Regions from separate parts of the Homo sapiens genome. Here region 2 is linked to region 1. A link means that fine-mapping ties the variant in region 1 to the expression of a gene that starts in the linked region. Tissue or cell type: whole blood. Region 1 holds a variant in brackets; the other region holds the start of a gene. All regions are shown on one strand. Distances are from middle to middle.

What was found. PIP is the estimated chance that this variant, and not a neighbour inherited with it, causes the effect.
Region 2: it holds the start of HACD4, and the variant in region 1 is fine-mapped to the expression of HACD4 in whole blood (TOPMed, PIP above 0.99).

Annotation. Positions count from the first base shown.
Region 1 is chr9:20,606,053-20,614,052 of GRCh38, forward strand. All of the region lies in intron 2 of MLLT3 (MLLT3 super elongation complex subunit), which reads right to left. Among named protein-coding and RNA genes, the nearest start is that of MLLT3, 12 kb to the right of the region's middle. The variant C/T (reference allele first, on the strand shown) is at 3,808.
Region 2 is chr9:21,025,763-21,037,003 of GRCh38, forward strand. HACD4 (3-hydroxyacyl-CoA dehydratase 4) reads right to left here and starts at 5,878. Exons shown (of 7, transcript NM_001010915.5): 1 at 5,791-5,878; 2 at 3,533-3,636; 3 at 834-961. The coding sequence starts at 5,828. It overlaps LOC105375989 (a long non-coding RNA gene), which reads left to right and starts at 5,880. Exons shown (of 3, transcript XR_007061435.1): 1 at 5,880-6,238; 2 at 6,710-6,889; 3 at 7,601-8,157. RefSeq lists a silencer at 5,654-6,013 and an enhancer at 5,657-6,217.

The DNA of each region.
Region 1 (8,000 bases):
AAATTAAATAAATTAGTTTGCAAGTAATTAATGACGAGAATTCAATAACGTAAAACTATCCCTGCGTATTCTCTATGGCTGGGAAATTTAGCTGGTTATGTTCATATAATACACTTAGTGGGTCTTGGAGCCCACTGCCTGTAAAATCTCCCATGGAGATTCAAGACCACCCATTGAAAATAGAACATTATTGCCTCCAGCAAGAAGCTGGTACATAGGACTGGTTATTCAAGTCTTTTAAATACTATTTTATTGAGGGATTGCAGGAGGTGGGGGAGGGGTGAAGGCGGATTCATGAGTGGATGGGGGAGGAAAACTCAGAAAAAAACAGTAATTTCTAAAGCAGAGGTTCCTGCCGTACCCCCTTCACCCACCCGTACTTTTAAAACAGCTACATAAACAAAGTAATAAGTGCTCAATTTCAGAGAGAATTACATTATACTCCATTTGAACAGGCTACAAAGTACTTTTATTTGAAAAGCTGCTTGTGCTCTGTTATAAACAATTTTACTCTGCACCAATTTCAGACAAGAGAAGATGGCTAGGGAGTGTGGGAGGTGGAGTTAGGAAAAATTCACTCAGTGTCTTTCAATGCCTTAAACAGTTGATCCAATAAAGATCCTTTAGAGAAAACTTTAAGTCTATTTTTTTTCTCCAAGTAAGCAAATCATACAGGAGGGCTTTTCTTTTCTAGGGTACTGCACCCTGTCTCTTTAAATTCCAGGCCTGCCCCATTTCCCACGCATTCAATGAAAGCCCCACGTTTGCTGGCCTCCAGCCCACAATGTCAAGTAGTTCTCTTGCTATTGAATTTCAAGATTATTCTTTTGGATCATTTGCCCTTTAGTTTTAAGCACACCAAAGCAAAAATAATGTCTTTCTACAATAACATAAAGAAAACTCAGAGGTCTTTACAAGTCTACAAGTAGAGAACACCTTGTCCTCTGGTTCCTCTTTCACTGCAAAATATGCTCCCACTCCATATGCTCCAAATAAGGGCCATTTGTACACTATCGTCATCTACCATAGTTTTGTCTGTCCTATAACAAAATTTTATGAGTATTTTTATTTAATTTGGTGCCAATTTGGAATCTCTTTGCAATACTCAAACCAGGTCTTCATATTGCTCAAACTCTCCACTCTTCAACTTGGTGTCTGGGGTATTTGGTTATAACAAGTTTTAAAACAATTACTTAATTTTAAAACTATTATTTTATTTTTGCAGTTAAGACATCTATATAAATTAACTTACTAATAAAAGCAGCAAATAAACATTGCCATCTGTACTCATTGTGCCAAAGAGTATATTTTCCTCATTCTTGTATACACCTTAATCCTGAAGAAGGGATTCCAGGCCATTATCAATCACATTTAGAATTCTCTCAAAAGGAATAGACATAGTTAAGCAGAAATTTGTCAGCAGAACTAAATTAAGTTCATGGAATATAATCTTATTCCAAATGCTGGCAAATAGAATTTGAAGTTGCAATTTTATTCAAGCAGCTAATAAGAAATACCCAGATCATAAACATCATTGTTTATATTTCACAAACATTCTAAGGTAGAGTTAATCTATTTGTATTTTATGGATTTTGTAAAATCATCTACTACTAAAGGGAAAATGCCCTTATTTTTATTTGACATATAGCTTTGCTATGCATTAGTGCACAGTACACTTTTAAAGTTTAATGTCAAAATGCAAATGTGTTTTCTCACGGACTATAAAATCATGGACTTAATTAGATAAATTTTAGATTGCAGAGAGACCCTTGAGACAACTAAAATTAACCTCCTCATTTTGCGGAAATCATTTTTAGTTATGCTTAAGGAATATTCATATCAATCTGCATTGTATATAAAACATAAAATTATGTACTAATTTCCCTTTGTAAAAACCTCTAGTTATTTTTGTAGCTTATATATGAAATATTAATAAAATCATCTTAGTATCAAAATAGTTTGAATTTATGGAATTATGCATGAATTCTCCATCCAAAAAGGACCACTTCTTTCTCTGCCCTAAATCTTTTTTTCTCTATGCCTTATGTTTGGTACTTGTTTTGGTACTTTTTATTTCTTAAAAGTTCATGTTTAACTTCCAAATTATATACAAAGATGCACACATTGGAATTGAGTCTTTTATTTCCAATTATCAATACTATTTATTCTTCAACATAATCACCATATATCTAAGCAACATGATGACAGTCTTTTTATTTGTAGTTGATTTTTAAAGTCAGATGTAGGCTCTAGAAAAATTTTTAACACTACACAGCAAGATAGACATGTTAATTATCAAAGTTATCAAAACTCCACAGGAAAAAAGGGCCAGAACTTTTCAAAACATTCCTAAGTACTCCAAAAATGTATACTGTACTGATATATTACACATGGGTATCTTTCTGTTACCAAGACTATCCTATATGAATACACATTTATAAATCAGGTTAATCTCATTACTTTTATAACTTCAATACAAAATGTTAAGAAAGGTAAGAACGTTATCTACATGTCTCCCTTTAAAGCTTACGATCAACTTATGAAACATTGTGCAAATACTCATAGTAACATTAAAGGAAAAGACTCAAAACGACAAGGTGGCAAAAATGTCAAATAGCAAAATTTGAAAATGTTTCTTGGGAAAGACAGTCTTAATCATGTTCCAAATTACTTGTAGAAAAAACTAAAAATCTTATTGTAAATGTGCCCATACATACATTTAAATACTAGTTTTACTTTCACATAATATGAGTCATTCAAGAAAACTTGAAAAAGCCAACGAATTTTACTGACAACAATAAGAAGTTCCTGATATCCCACGTCCCAGAGATCACTTATATTAACATTCTACGATAGTATTTCTTCCCATCTTTTCAGTGATGTATTTTTATCTATCACATACTTCTCAAAATGTGGGGTAAAGATGAACAAATCTAGCCATTCTAACACAGAAAATGAACTGAATCAATGATGTTAACCTAAAAAAGATACTCTGTCAAGAAGCATTAACTATAAGCTATTGTTTAGCCTTTACAATGTAAGAAAATTCCTATTTATTTGCAGCTCTATTTTAAATGTCTGCATTTGTGTATTTTTGGATAAATTATCGGCTCTAGTCAATTGCTTGACAATTTCCTTTACAGAATTGGAATGCTAACTAAAATTATTTTTTCTTTGACCTAAAAGTTATACAGCATGTTACAACTGAAGAGTAGAAAAGTACTTGCTTTTCAAAACAACTTCAATTCAGCATTTGAATTATTAAATAGAAAACCCTATTTATTCTTATATGTATGTATGCAAGTATGTTGGATGATCAAAAATTTCATATACTTTCTTCTAATCTGTTCACATGATAATACAGACAGCCCTCAATTAGCTTACATGGGCAGTCCTCAATTATTACTCTATTGATAATAAAAACACAAGTAATATCTGGTAAGTGATACTTCAGAAAAGCAAATTAAGTGACACAATTTCAAGGTCTATTTTATGTAAAAGACAAAAAAGCATGAAAAACCCAACGATCTAATGGCATGGTCAAGAGCCATAATTGAGGAAGAAGTTTCCTATCAACACTGGGTGGTCTTCTGAGTTCTTGAAATGCTCCAATCTACAAGTAATAGTTGATGGTTGAGGTGAATGGCACCGATATGATCAGAAATTAACTTTTACAAGTGTAACTTAATCCCTTATTTGGTGAATTACTCATGTTATCTTCTACTTCCCTATTACTGCAGCAAGTCTTTCACCCATTTCACTGTCCATTCACCATAAGAAAGGATAAAATTCCAATACACTGATGTT[C/T]ATATATTGGTATTTTATTTTCTCAAGAATATCATTCTCCGAACTACTACTTAGGAAGAGTCAGAAATTAAATACTCCACATGTCTATTGTCTAGCATGATAACCAATATAGCTATTTAATAAAGGGTAGTTATTATTTCATTGTTATAAAAACACTAGATCAATGACAATTGCAGAATTTATCCTTTTTAAAACTAAAGGAAAAACAGTATTTTCAGAGCTGCAAAAGCCCACACAGCTTATTCAGTCCAAACACATCCTTTCTACCTCCCAGGCCAGGGCCTTTCCTGCCACACTGCTAAATACTGCTCCTACCAGTTACTGGAATTACATTAGACTCTTATTTTTAAAGCTAAAAGGCTGGTTGTATTTCATGGATTAGGTAGTAAAAAAATGATAGAGCTGGCCAAGTCCTTCAAGTTTGTGTCTAGCTTTTCTTTTTAAGCATCCAAAGTAAGTGAAGAAAGAATAAGGGAAAAAAGAGAAAAGAGAAAAATTCATTTTTGCCTATTACAAATGCTAGAACACATTCTAGAAAATGTGATTCTCAGCAGACACAATGTTTCCTGCTAAATTCAAGTGGTGGTTCTGTTTACACAAAGTCAATTATTAGAGGTGCAGAAGAAATGAGTTTCAGAAATCTGAGTAATAATTTATAACTTACAGGAGTGGAAAGTAAAGCCAGGGATTCTAAAACCCTTTTTCTGACTTGCAATACCTGCCTTTATACGGTTGCCAAAAAATTCCAGGGTCAAGACATTACATTGATGGAGCTATAAGTAGTATCTACAGTGATAACATAGGTCCCATCCTTTCTGATGTGTAACTCTAATGCAACACAGGAGGAAAAAGAGATAACATATACAAAGAGAAGGGAGTGTTGGTCTAATGAAAGCATGTAACACATAACACGTGCTGCTTTGGTGCTCCATAAAATGAGGGAAGTTAGCTTCCAGCCCACTAGTTACTATTTCTGTGCATACAGAGAAAAAGTCATACAACAAGCATCAGACAATCTTGAACTGGGTCAACATTTTCAAATAACGTGTTCCACTCAATGCAACTAAATCTCAACAGCCCAAATCCCCCATGTTTCATTGACTCTATAAAACAGCTGCTTATTATAGAGAAACAGAGAAATAAGTAAAATGAAGGAAAATACTATGTGAAATAGAAGAATGTTTCTTCAATATAAAAAAGGTCGTAATTATTTAGCTTTCATTATTCATATTAATGAAGTATTTGTGGTAAAGGGTAAAGATGATATAAAGTCTACAATGAACCTGGTTTTTAAACACCCAAAGTGTTTTACATGTTTATCAAATGAATAGATACCTGGAATAATCAGACAGTATTCTATCCCCAGTACCATCCTTGGAGGGAGGCAGGGGAAATGGGACATAAAAACCTATCTGCAAAAATGAAAAGGCATCATTCAGACAAAATTTATATCTGAAAACATTAAGAGGCAAATTACCTCCCTACTCTCCAAGCCACTGCTATTATTATTAATACTTCAGGAAACTGTTAATATATATTTTGCTTTTAAAAATCAATATACACACACAGAGCATTTTGCCTGGTATTGATGAGGAAATAACTAATAATTTCTACTGGAAAGGAACAAAGAAAAAAAATCTAGTTTTGACAAAATCAAATATTTTAAAATAGAAAAAAATTAACTTGGCTTTGAGAATATCAACCTTCTAATATGTGTAACTAATTAAAGGTAACTAATTATATTTATAATCACTAATGAACACTATTTTAAAGATAAGCCATAATTTTCTTTAATAAAAAAAATGGTGACTTGATTTTATCCAAAAAGTTAATTGTTAACTGCTACATACCAACTAAATCACACCCAAATGCTGGCCTTATCTTTTTAGAAATTCTATCGTAATAGCCTTCTTCAGTCGTCAACCACTGCAAACTTACCACACTTAAGTCAAAAGGATTAAGTCATGCAACATTACTTCTTAAAACAACACCCTGCATCCTTCATGTAATTGCAATTCTTACCACTGGGTGAATTGGGGACAAAATATCAGGAGATAACTACCACCCAGCAACAATTTTTTCTAATGATTTAATCTCAAAGGAAAACTTTAATTCATATAGAGAATTTGATTTTGTCTGAAAGTAGCTATAGAACTTTTTCCTTTTAAACAGCATCTACCATGGTTACCACCACTTAATTAAATCCTAGATCATGTCTACAAAAGCAGCTATTGCTGAACATTTGTCTGCTAATATAAGTGAATTATTACTCAATGTTTTAAAAGTAAACATTGACCACCATTTATTACTAGTTATCTTTGCACAGGCATACTTGTGACTCATTGTGTCTACATGCAAGATTGCTCCACATTTCTAGGCTTCTGATTAAAAGTAAAATGAAAGGGTAATCGAAGATGAAGAATCTCAAGTGTCCTTTCCAGCTCTAAAAAGACACAGCACACTGAAGGCAGGGACCTCCTCTTACTCTTATTTGTATCTCCCTCAGTCTTTCACTGTATCCTACATATATATTGCCTTTTGGTTAAGCACATTACTATGGCCACGAACTAAATTCTTAAATAAGACCCTAAGCCCAGAGAGGAAAACAAAACAAAATAAAGCACATCAGTTTGACAAAATTAAAAGCTTGCATATGGCAAAAAGATACCATAAATCAAGATAAAAGAAAAAAATGAGGCAAGATATTTTCAACAAAAATAACAAAGGAAGAACATCCTACAAACAAGAAAATGACAAGCAACCCAATCTTTTCTTTTAAGAAAAAGGATATAAAAAGAAGTCAATAAAGAGGAAATCAAAATAGTCAATATATATATATAAAATGCTTAATCCCACCAGGAACCAGAGAAATGTAAATGAAAACAAAAAGATACCAAATTTCAACTCTGAAAAATAGGAAATATTAAAATAGCCAAAATTGGCAAAGATATAGAGGAAAAATGGTACTCATTTTCTTGACAGAGTATAAACTGTCAGAACCACTTTTTAGAGCAATCTGACAGCAGCTAGTACAAATGAAGACACACGTGCCCACAACTCAATAACTCAAAATCTAGGCCTATGTCCAAACCCTTGTTCATCTGCACAAGGTAACATGCACAAAGATGCTCACTGCACAGAACAGAAAATGACCTATTTATTTCTTAATAGGAAAACAGAAAAGTAAAGTATACAATATATTCCCATGATGAAATACTAAGCAGAAGAAATTAAAGAGAATGACGTGGCTCTTTATAGATGAAATGTGGACAGGTTCAGAAACAGAATTGAGTGGGGGAAAAAAGCAAGATGCAAATGTATTCACTCATAAAAATATTCTGGTATTAAATAATGGCAATGGTTACACAACCTTATGAATATACTAAAAACCACAGACTTGCACACTTTAAAAGGGTAAATTTTGCATGTGAATTATATCTCAATTGTAAAAAAAAGATTCACTAGCATGATCCTCTTCACGTTGATTTTAAGACACAATACATTATTATTTGTAAGCAACATATATGTGCAAAATAAATAGAATGGAAGACAGACTGAAGGGTTGGAAGAAAAGGCTGGGAAGCATTTTAAAACATTAGCTGCATCTATAATAGTTAATTCTCCAGAATCCAAACAAGGAATCAAATAAGATAATATGTAAACATTTATTCATTCTTGGTAGTGGGGATTTGAATGTTTGTTATATCATTCTCTGCATTTCCCCATGCTTTTTTTTTTTTAATTAAAAAAGCAGCCATGGACTACAAAGGACAAAAAAGGCACATCACAAAAGACAAACGGTAAATAAATACATAATGAAAGATATGTGGCACTGCTAATCATATAAATGCAAACCAAAATGAGGCAGTTTTTCCACACAGATTGGCAAAGATTTTTTTAAGCTGTTAATTTCCAGTTTATATGCCTGAGGAAATATAAACTGGGACAATCTTTTTGGAGGAAAGTTTGGTAATATATAACAAAATTTTAACTCTGTATACCTTTTGACTCCACAACCTCCCTTCTAGAAATTTAACATAAACAAATTATTAGAAAAACCATTAAAATGAATGTCAAAGATGTCCACCACAGCACTATTCATAACAAATCAAAACTGGGAACAATCCAAAAGAAGTATAATAAATCCATATACAATGTCATACCAGAAAAATCCAACAATTTTAAAAGATGAT
Region 2 (11,241 bases), 420 kb after region 1:
GCTAGAGGCATGGAAGAGGGAACAAAGAATAGTTAAGAAAATAGTAATAATAGCTGCCGAGTATTGTATTCTTAACTAAGTGCCAGGAACTTATCCATTTTCTCAGTTACTTCATAAGATACATGTTATTTTCATATCACATGAGAAAATGCAGTTCAGAATGATTAAATGACTTGTTTAAATGTATACAACTAGTGCAAAGTAGAACTGGGATTTGAATCCGGGTCTGTGTGTTCCCCAAGTCTATCCTTAGATGCTGTACTAGATAAACACAAATGATCTCCTCTTTCCATTGACGTTTAGTAAAAAAGAGGGAATGAGCAAGAAATGGCCTAGGAGTACTCTATTCTCTGGATGTAGATGAAGGAAGCCTTTTGTTTTTTAATCATCTACTCTTTGCCAGGTATTATTTGTGGTGTCCTTTCCCTCAACAGCCCAATGGTTGTTCCCATAGTATGGGTGGTATGATCCCATAGTGGTAAGCAGAAAAGCCAGGCTTCAAGCCTAAGTCTCCAGTCCTATGCCTTATCATTGTCTTCTACTAACCCAGGCAGTGACACAGTGAGGGTAGCAAGTGGCTACGAAATCTCCTTCCAGGATAGGACCAATGCAGTGCTGCAAGATCAGCAAGCATCACTGCCCTCAGTGTTTCCAACTGGTTATTCTAACTGGGCAGTTTTACAATAAGGTTGTCCTTCCATGAAATTAATTCTCCTTATCAGTGACCTAAGACAAGGGTTGGCTTTCTAACTGCCATAAAGTCAAGAGAAGCTTTAAAGAGAAAAAATGTAAAAATGAAACAGATTCTATAATAATATGTGATTCAAACCTACCTGCAAAAACCTTGGGAGAAGATGGTTTGACTCAATGCCAACATATATGTGCAGCAGTTCCAGGAGAGATACGGATTGGCAAAGTCGCATCACAAGTCCAATAGCATAAAAAGTGTCAACCATTGAATCTGTATCCCGTGGGTTAAAAATGCAGATATAGGAAGAAAAAACTGGATTATAACCCAAATTTATGCAGCACTTTGAAGTCAAATGGAGATTATTCACTTCCTTTTTCATTGTACATGTGAAAAATTCCTTAAGTAGGCTACTAAATTATTAACAATACAATGCAAACAAACAAAGCACTTCATACTGTAGTCTATTTTAATTGCTCCTGTTCCAAAAAGAAATCGAAACTTGAGAAAGATTTCATGGCCAAACATACACATAGCATTTATTCCCCACTTATAAGATTATAAAGCAATTCCCACATAAGAGTAACCTCCTAGAATCTAGACCACCTCAAGTGTAAATAGAAGTGAGCTTGTTAAGGACACTATGTGCTCACAGCTTCTCCACTGACAAGAAAATGACAAAGATGAGAAAAAATATTATTTCGGAGAAACTTTATGGAAATGACACTAATAATGCCATGATATCAAATAACATAGGTATCTAGGATTTTGTTTCTATACATATTTGGTTAGTGCTTTTCTGGATTTTGTTAAACACTGGAACTTGGGCCTCTGATCAGGACTTTTGGGGTTTGCATTGCAGAGGGTTCACATGAAATACTGTGCACTTGGAGCTGAAATGGAAGGGAAACAAATGTTCCTCTACATAGGATAAATGTGTTGCTTTAAGTTCTAAAATGAAATCCTGCCATGTTTAGAAACTCGTAGGGAAGATTTTGCTCTCTTTACTGCCCAGTGATGATTCACACAATAATAATTTACTGAGCAGTAAGGATTTCTCTTCTCGGCAGCTCCACAAGATGGACACTATTATCATCATCCCCATTTCAGAGATGGTTCCTGAAGTACACAGTCCATGCTCTTATCCACTGCCCTGCACTTGCTGTACCAGAGCATTATGAATTACACAGCTCCGTGAAGGAAGAAGGTAGCAGGTATAACACGTTCAGGGTTTCAGGTTTCTGTTGAGCTACTTACATAATTTATACATTGATTCAAAAATTGTACTGAAACCACACTTAGTTGTTTTCAGTCTGTCTCCTGAACGAATCGGTTGTGTTTCTTTAATAATAAGCTTCTACAATTGTAATGGCAGGATAATAACTGAGAAAGAAATGCGCCGAGCCGGGCACAGTGGCTCACGCCTGTAATCCCAGCACTTTGGGAGGCTGAGGCAGGCGGATCACCTTTGGTCAGGAGTTCAATACCAGCCTGGCCAATGTGGTGAAACCCCGTGTCTACTGAAAATACAAAAATTAGCCAGGCATGGTGGCGGGCACCTGTAATCCCAGCTACTCAGGGAACTGAGGCAGGAGAATCACTTGAACCTGGGAGACAGAGGTTGCAGTGAGGTGACATCGTACCATTGCACTCCAGCCTGGGCGACAAGAGGGAAACTCCATCTCAAAAAAAAAAAAAAAAGAAAAAAGAAAAGAAAAAAAAAGAAAGAAAAGAAAAAGAAATACTTGATGACTAAGGCAACTTTTCTCACTGGAAAGGTGAGACAGCATAAGCCAGTCCATGGCTTGTGTTGCCAATGACATGTAATATGCCTGCACTGCCTCAGCAAACCTCAAAGGGCTAGAAGTGATGGCTTTTTAATAAAAATATAAAAGAAGTTTTCCCATCACCTGTGTTTTCCTGTGCTTGAAAACTCTCAACATTTGTAGTTGAAACTCAAGCTTTAGGTTATATCTTTGGAGGTCCTTAACAAAGGCGAGACTATATCTGTAGATTTTCAGTAAGAAAAAGCAACATAAAATAGCTTATGGGACCCTGCAAGTAGAATAACTTCCTTATGATACACACGTCTGAAATGATGAGCACAGCATGACTTTTCCCAGCTACATTCTAAACATTTGTTTTTAGCTGAAGCCAGCAGTTGCTTAGATTGTCAAGTCACTCAACAGTTGTAAACTGTGAGGACACTTACCCACGTGCGGATGGAACATGAAGAGAATGTTATTTTGATAGTCATTTAGTCACCCAACAGTGACTTTACTTTTCAGGAAACTAGAGGAAGTTTATGACTTAAACCATTAATGCTGACTCCTATATAAGTGGTTAGCCCTCTACAAAGTGTGTCATTTACATATTACTTCTTAAAGGGACCAAATAGAGGCTTGGGGAATATAAAATTTGTATTTCACTTACTAGTAGTCTCCAGTTACCTCAAACCTGGGGAATAATACAAACACTGGAAGAATTTGATTCATTCCTGATTTCTCTGCATAAAATGTTATGCTGAGATTTCCTCAAAACACTAGAAATCTGCTAAGGTTTGGTACAGAATGGAAAAGGAACAATGAAATGATACCACCTCAGTGCCATCCATCTCTTTTTTGAGGCAAACTGCCAACTCAGGGGGAAGCCAAATCCCTTTCCCTTACTTATCCCACCTTCCCCCTTCCCCAAGAAGGTTTTGCAATAAACATGGTTGCTAAAAAATACAAATTTTAGAGAAGGATATTAGAAGGTTGAGGTGTGTAGAAATTTAATATAAGCAGGATGAGGTGAAAACAAGGATTAAAAGTTAAAAATAAAAAAACTGTTTCGGAGTTTTACCTTTTCCAAATGAAAAGAATCTGACTGTCATATTTGTAAATATCCAAGAGTGGCCACAGAACTGGATTAAGTAATAGATGAAAAGATACGCATTCTTCCTATACCTATAAATACAGGAAAATACCATTAAACACTTCTTTTATAATCATCCTTTCATCACTGTACACATGCCCTTTAATGTACTGGCCAACCTGAGAAAGCAAAAGAAAACTGTTTCATATCAGTCTTTTATCTGGTTACCCCCAAGTACATATCAGATTTTGAAGGGAGCCATAACCTACACTACCCGCTAAAGTAAATACAGATGCTTCTTCACTTATGATGAAGTTACGTCCTGGTACACCCCATCAGCTGAAAATATCATAAACTGAAAATATCATAAGTTGAAAATGCATGTAATACAACTGATCTACAGAACATCACAGCTTAGCCTAGTCTACCTTAAACTTGCTCAGAACACCTACATTAGCTTACAGTTGGGTGGAATCATCTGGCAACACAGTGCACTGTGGAGTACCGGTTGTTTACCTTCCTGATCATGCGGCCGACTGGGAGCTGCGGCCTGATGCCGCGGCCCAGCATCATGAAAGGATATCATACCTGCACATCGCTAGCCTGGGGAAAGATTAAAATCCAAAATTTGAAGTACGGTTTCTAATGAATACATATCATTTTCACACCATCACAAAGTTTAAAAAATTGTGAGTCATGGACCATCTGTATAGTGAGTTTGCTTAAAACCAAATATAGTGCTTTTTCAAAATCTGCTTTCATCTTTGATAAAGTTCTAACCTTGCTGCTCACCAAGGAATAAAAGAAACCACTGCGAAGGTGGCTTTGAATATTCTTTAAAAAAACAAAACAGGCTGGGCGCGGTGGCTCAGGCATGTAATCCCAGCACTTTGGGAGGCCAAGGCGGGTTGGATCACTTGAGGCCAGAAGTTCAAGACCAGCCTGGCCAACATGGCAACTTACAAAAAAAAAAAAAAAAAAGCCGGATGTGGTAACGTATGCCTGTAATCCCAGCTACCTAGCTGCTCAGGAGGCTGAGGCAGGACAATCACTTGAACCTGGGAGGTAGAGGCTGCAGTGAACCGAGACAGCGCCACTGCACTCCAGCCTGGGCGACAGATCAAAACTCTGTTCTCAAAAATAAATAAAAAATAAAAAACAAAACAACAACAACAACAAAAAATCCATGTGTGCAGAGTGGTTGACATGTCACTATGTGTTCCAGTAGCTCAGCTTGCTAAGTGCAGAACTTGAGACACAGTGTTTTAGTTCTGAAGGGGGGTAGGGATGGGAGTAATCCAAATGTTGGGTAATTCAGTAATTGGACACACCTGACTTTTGAACACATTATGTGATTGAGGTTAGTATTAACATCTTGCCACTGCCTATTAACATTTTGCAAGGGTAGATAGTTTCCTTCATCAGATACATATCGAAAGCAGTTTAGTTGCTCATACCAGAAGAGGGAAGTCAAGCTGGGTTTAACAATGTGTTGTGAGTTGCTGGGGAGATGACTAAGAGAAGATTGACAGATAGATGGTTTGAGGGAGTTAGGAAAAGCACTGTTTGAAATGTTCCCTGGGAGTTCAGAAGAGTGACGGGAGTGGCCCTGCCAGTGTGGTCAAGATTTACTCCTCCTTGAAGATGTGAAACCTCCTAGAAACAAGGAAAATAAGCTGGGAGGCAGAATGATTTTTATTTGGGGACATCCTCCCCTATAAAGGCAGGAACTGCTAAAGGGTTTGGGAAGAGGAAATCCTCCTTCAGCTTGTATCAGAATTACCTGGCTTGTGGGTTAAACATATACACCCCCAGGCCCTACCGCTATATGACTGAATCTGTTCCCCGCCGGAACTAGGCCCTGAAATCTATACGTGTGATAGGTGTTTCCACGGCTGTTACATCTAAAAATCACCCCGCAACTCTGCGTCTGAGAAAGTCAAGAGAAGGCTCCTGGGGGGAGGGAAGTACTGGCAGAGGGCTCACAAGGGCAGGGGTAGCCATGCAGCCTGTCCTTCCCATTCAACTGTAAAATGGAGAAAATAACAGAGCCTGCTTCCTAGGGTGGTCAAGAGGGGTAAGTTAGCAAATACCTGCATGAGCTCCAAGGGGTGCCTGGGCACGGTAGCGCTGCGCCTTGCTGGCGGGCGGGGGGTGCCGCCCGCCCGCCCGCCGCAGAGGGGAGCTCCCGCCTCCAGGCCCTCCACCCGCGCCCCCTCCCCTCGGGATTCGGCCGAGCGCCCTACCTGGGCTGCAGCCAGGCGGGCAGCGCCAAGGGCCCCATGGGCCGCCGCCGCCAGGGCTTCCAGCGCGGTCCAGGAAGGAGTACCGGGGAGGAGGCAGGGGCGGCCCCGCGGCTGGGCGCGGAAGGGCGGGGCCTCTCCACACTCAGCAGTTTACAAAAAGAAAAAGCCCGAGGTCGTGCGTTGGGGAAGAGATGAAAACGAAGTTCTCGAAGTTTCTGCAGCACTGCTAGAGCGCGTCAGGGCGCAAGGCTGGGAGGCGGCTCGCGTTCCCGGTGGGGTTACCAAACTCTGGTTACAGCTTCCTAATCTTTGTGTTGAGACCCCCTTGCAAGCCTTCTGGAAATTAATGCATCTGGGCGATTTCCGGGGCCTCCGAACTCGCTGAAGCCCATCCCCAAACCTCCCGAGATGAGTGGATTCCAGGGTGGGCTCTGCTCAATGCCCACCGGTGAGCCAGGTTCAGACACGAAGCTTGTGCCGGGCGCAGTGGCTAATGCCTATAATCCCAGCACTTTGGGAGGCCGAGGCGGGAGGATCTTTTGAGCCCAGGAGTTCGAGACCAGCCTGGGCAACATAGCGAAAACGCGTCTCTACTAAATGTACAAAAATTAGTCGGGCATGGTGACGCGGGCCTGTGGTCCCAGCTACTCCAGAGGCTGAGGTGGGAGGATCGCTTGAGCCTGGGAGGTCGAGGCTGCAATGAGCCAAGATCACGCGGCTACACTCCAGCCTGGGTAACAGAGCGAGATCCTGTCTCAAAAAATAAATAAAAATAAAACGAAGTTTGTAGCACACCTCCCCAACACTTTTTCAGCTAGGGGCCTGATTCCTCTTCTATCAGGCCTCCCTGCTCTCTAATCTCCCTTGGGTTCTCACTGGTGCCTGCAAATCTTTATTCACGTTGTGTTAATTTCTCTAGCCTATGCCCAGCACTGCTACAACCCCTTCGTGATCTCTCAGGCTTATGACATCACTGTCTCCGTACACAGATGACCCACCCTCCTGCTTTGCTAATAAGATCCAGCCCATCTTCAAGCTCCTCTGCCCAGAAAGGGAAACGTTAAAACAAAAACAGAAACATCTAAGAAGGCACTTGCAAGTAAGTGGGACAATGGCACCTGGTTTTGGAGTTGGAAGTTAGCGCCCCCATTTTTACCAAAAGGGAAGTTGAGGCATTAAAAAAATGTTAAGTCACTTGGCACAGGTCACACAATTGATAAAATGGCAGTATCAGAACTTCAAGGTTGGTGGGATTTCTTGTTTGTTTCCCATTAGGCCGTGGCTTCCTTTTTTCATAGTCCATTCCATTCACTATGCCTACCTCTCACCTCTACATTTCTCTGCACCTTCTCTCATACCCTGCCCTCAGTCGGAGGTTAACCCCAACTTTGTGTTTACCAGTCCCTTCTCAGACTCACTGCATCAGTAGTTAACCATCGCCTCTTCTTGCATCGTCATCCCCTCCTTTCCATTGGCTTTCACTGCACTTTAGGGACATAGACAACTCTCTCTTAGCATATAATTAAACATTGTATTCTTTCTGTTTCTCTCTCAATGGAATCTTCTAATAACTCCCTGCCTGCCTTCTCTGATCAGGTGCTTCTTTCATTTCCTACCATCTTCCTGTTCCATAATACCTTACAGTTTGACTCTCCTGACACTGCTCCGTCCGCGAGCATGTTAATTTTTCGCCGAATCCCTATCCTGTATCACCTTGCAGGATGATGCCCCACGGTCCTTGCTTTTACAGAACATTTGATCTAAAGGGTAAACTGGTGGCTAACCCATTATCAATGCTATCTCTGATCAGGTTAAGCAGCAAGAGAGAAAGTAAAGTCCCAGATGGCCTGCAGTGGGGCAGGAGGGAGAAGGTGGAAAGCCTGCCCAGAAGAATTGATCCTTTGTCACCAAACACAGCCCCTGCATCCACATCCTCATTGACAGGTCTGCTGCATTTTACCAGTTCTGTCTGTCTGCCATTTACCCCTGAAGTTCTACATATTCTACGTCTCTTGCCTTATGTCCCTTCTGTCTCTCTGGATGGGTCTTCTTCTCCTGCTGTATTTCCTCAAAAGTCTGCCCTTAGTCACCATCCATTTGTCACCATGTTATCCCTCAGCATAGACAACCACACATGGCTTTATCTCCATGTGGACAACTTTTGACTATTATTTTCAGCCCTTTCTTCTTTTATGAATACTATCTCTGGCCTTTGAGCAGCTTTTGGATATTTCCTCATGAAAGTCCTATTGTTTGGACTATCTTTGGAACGTCTTCCAATTCAACCTATTTAAAATAAGCATACTATCTCTCTTCCTAAATCATTATTTCCCACAGAAAGACCACCATTTTTCTAGCCACTTGATTTTAAATTGGGGAGTCATCATTAAGCACCCCATCCAATCAAATTCGATTGATCCCATCCTTTCCAGATCTCCTACTAATCAGTAGTGTTCTTTGTCCATTCCTTATTTTCCAGTACCTGGGTGAGGAGTAATTGGCCTCCCTCACATCCATTCTTTACATCATAACTCAGTTGACTTTCTGGAGCGTCTTGGGTTATATCTTTCTGCTGCACAAAAAGAGGCCCTTTTTAGTTGCCAAAAAAGAACAAGCCAATCAGTCGAAAAATAAAAAATCCTTTCAAATCAAGCAGTTAGCTGATTCTACGTTATTTCCCAAGGAAAGAGTACAAAAAGAGCTTAGGAGAGAACATTTTGTATGAAAAGTGAAATTCTCCCTTTCCCCTGGTCAGTTCCCAGTCCTGCCCACGTCCTGCCAGCATTATCAAGATGGCCTCCCCCAGCCTCCCTGCCTCCAATCTCTTTCCTCCTTCTACCCAGACTGCCATAGATTATTTAAGGATGGCAAAAATATTTCTTAAAACACAGTTCTGATGTAGCCATTCTCCTGGTCTAAATCTTTTGCTGACTCCCCGTTGCCTGCTACAGTATATCTCTTCTTGCCCCTAAACCTGTCACATGCTGACATCTCCTACCATCCTATCCCCTTACCAAAAATCACAGCAACCTGCTGTTCCATGACCACACCAGGCATTCTCTGGCCAATGTGCCTCTGTGAAAAATTTCCCGTCTACTTTTTCTATTCTACCTCCTCCCCTTATCACAGCCCAGTACTTACCTGTCAAAATTCTATTCATTCTTTAAAAGCCTTCCCAAAGATCCCCTCTGGGAGTCACATAGGCTAACGTATGTCTATGTTGGTATTTATCTTAGGGTATTGTTGTTGTCAAGGTACTTGACTATTTAACTAGATTATAGATTCTCAGAGGCTTCTCTCTCACTAACAGTGAGAATTTGACAACTTTTAACCTTTAAAAATGAAGTTTCTTTTGCCAAAAGCACACAGTTATTAGAAAGATCAAATAATAAAATTTATAGATGAAAATGGATAAAAGCCCCTAGTACAGTGCTTGGCATAGTAAGTATCCATAAATATGTTGGATGAATGAATTAAATCTAGTATGAGTTTTCTATTCCCAAAATTTTAACCCAAAACAAAACATTCAGTGATAGTTACATTACTGAAGTATGTATATTCAACTTTCAGTTATCCACTGGTACAGAAGAAGTCAGAGTCCAAGATAACAACTGAATTAATATATTCTAATCTTTAGAAGAAATTTTAAAATTATTCGAACATGTCAATTTTGTTTTCCTTGGGCAAATGCTTCAATTTGTTTTCATCCCAAAGAGCACCATCTGGGAGGCTAAAACCTTGAAATATATTTCATGGCAGTAACAGACTGGCTACAAAATAAATTCTTTTTTATTTTCAGCACCTTGAGTTTTCAGAGGTCACTCCTCTCCCTCAAAGAAAACACAGAATAAAACTCTTTGTGACCTTGGGTTAGGTAGAGATTTCTTAGGTATTTCATCTAAGAAGCCCTCTTAGATAGCTAAGCAAGCATTTCTTAGCTACTTCTGGCCTTCAAAAGACACTTTCAAGTGAGTGAAAAGAAGCTATATAGTAGAAGAAAATATTTAAAAATCGCATAACTAATAAAGAACTTGTTTGCAAATATATACAGAACTCTCAAAACTCAATAATTGGAAGACAATAAACCCCCCCAAAATAGGCAAAAGATTTGAAAACACACATAACCAAGTAAGAGACAAAGAAAGAACATAAAAGTATGGTCAAAATAATTAGTAATTATGGAAATGAAAATAAAACCACAATGAGATATCGCTACACACTGATAAAGATGGCTAAGATGAAAAAGAGTTAACCACCACAAGTGTTAGTGAAGATGTGCCACAATGGGGATTCTCATAAGCAGCTTTATTTTTAATAGCCAAAAACTGAAAACAACCCAAATTTCCATAAACAGATGAATGGATAAATAAATTATGGCATAACTGTACAATGAAATCCAACTCAGCAGTAAAAAGAAGTGAACTACTGATACAAGCAATAACATGGATGAAATTCAAAATAATCAAACTGAATGTCAGAAGCCAGAAAAAAAAAGAATAGATACTGTATGATTCTACTTATTTAAGGCTCTAGAAAGTGGAAACTAATCATCACTGATAGAAGGAAAATAAGTGGCTGTCTGAGGATAGATAGTGAAGAGGAATGAAAAAAGGGAGGGATTGCAAAGGAGCATGAGAGGTGGAAATGTTAATTGTTTTGCTTGTGGTGAGGTTTTTCAGGCATGTATCTATCTTAAAACTTATCAGTTTAAATTGATTCAGTTTATTGCAGTTTAGTATATGTTAGTTACACCTCAATAGAGCTGTTAATACACTAACACACTAATATTTAACACACTAATATTTATAAAGAGAAATGTAGGGTTTTCTGTTTTGAATAACTTTTATTATTGCTTATGATATAACATCCTGTGATTTTCAAGGGAAAAGTAAACAATACAAAACAAGATTTTTCAATAAAAAGAAACTCAGTATGCTCCAGGGCAGACTCTTTGATTTATTGCCCTTCTCCCCAAGGCACCTTAGCGTATGGCATTTACACAATCTGCAGTTGGTGAATACTGGGTCGCAGACCTGTACATATAGGCCCCTGGGTTGTCTTTTAGTTCATGATAGCTTCTTGAGGGGCTTACTTGCACTGGTGTCTGTACACTAGGTGTATCCTCATTCAATATGTTGATAGTAACCTAGGCCCACTTAATACCAATTAAAGACCCCCTATCACCTCCTGTCTTCTCTCCTTCCCTTGACAGTCTTCCTTTCCATCCCCAGGCCTCCATTCGTTCTTCATTCTCTCTGCCATCTCCTCATCCCCCTGGCAGTTCATTCGGAAACTTCTGTGCAGGCACTGCCCTGTCTCTCCCACATTGTGCCCTGAATTTGGTGCTACCCTAAGAGCTCACAGGTTTCCCTGCATCTGCCTGAGAAAGGACACTAAACCTATGGCATGTGATTCTTCCTCTTGGCTTAGGATATTTCTATTACCACATCT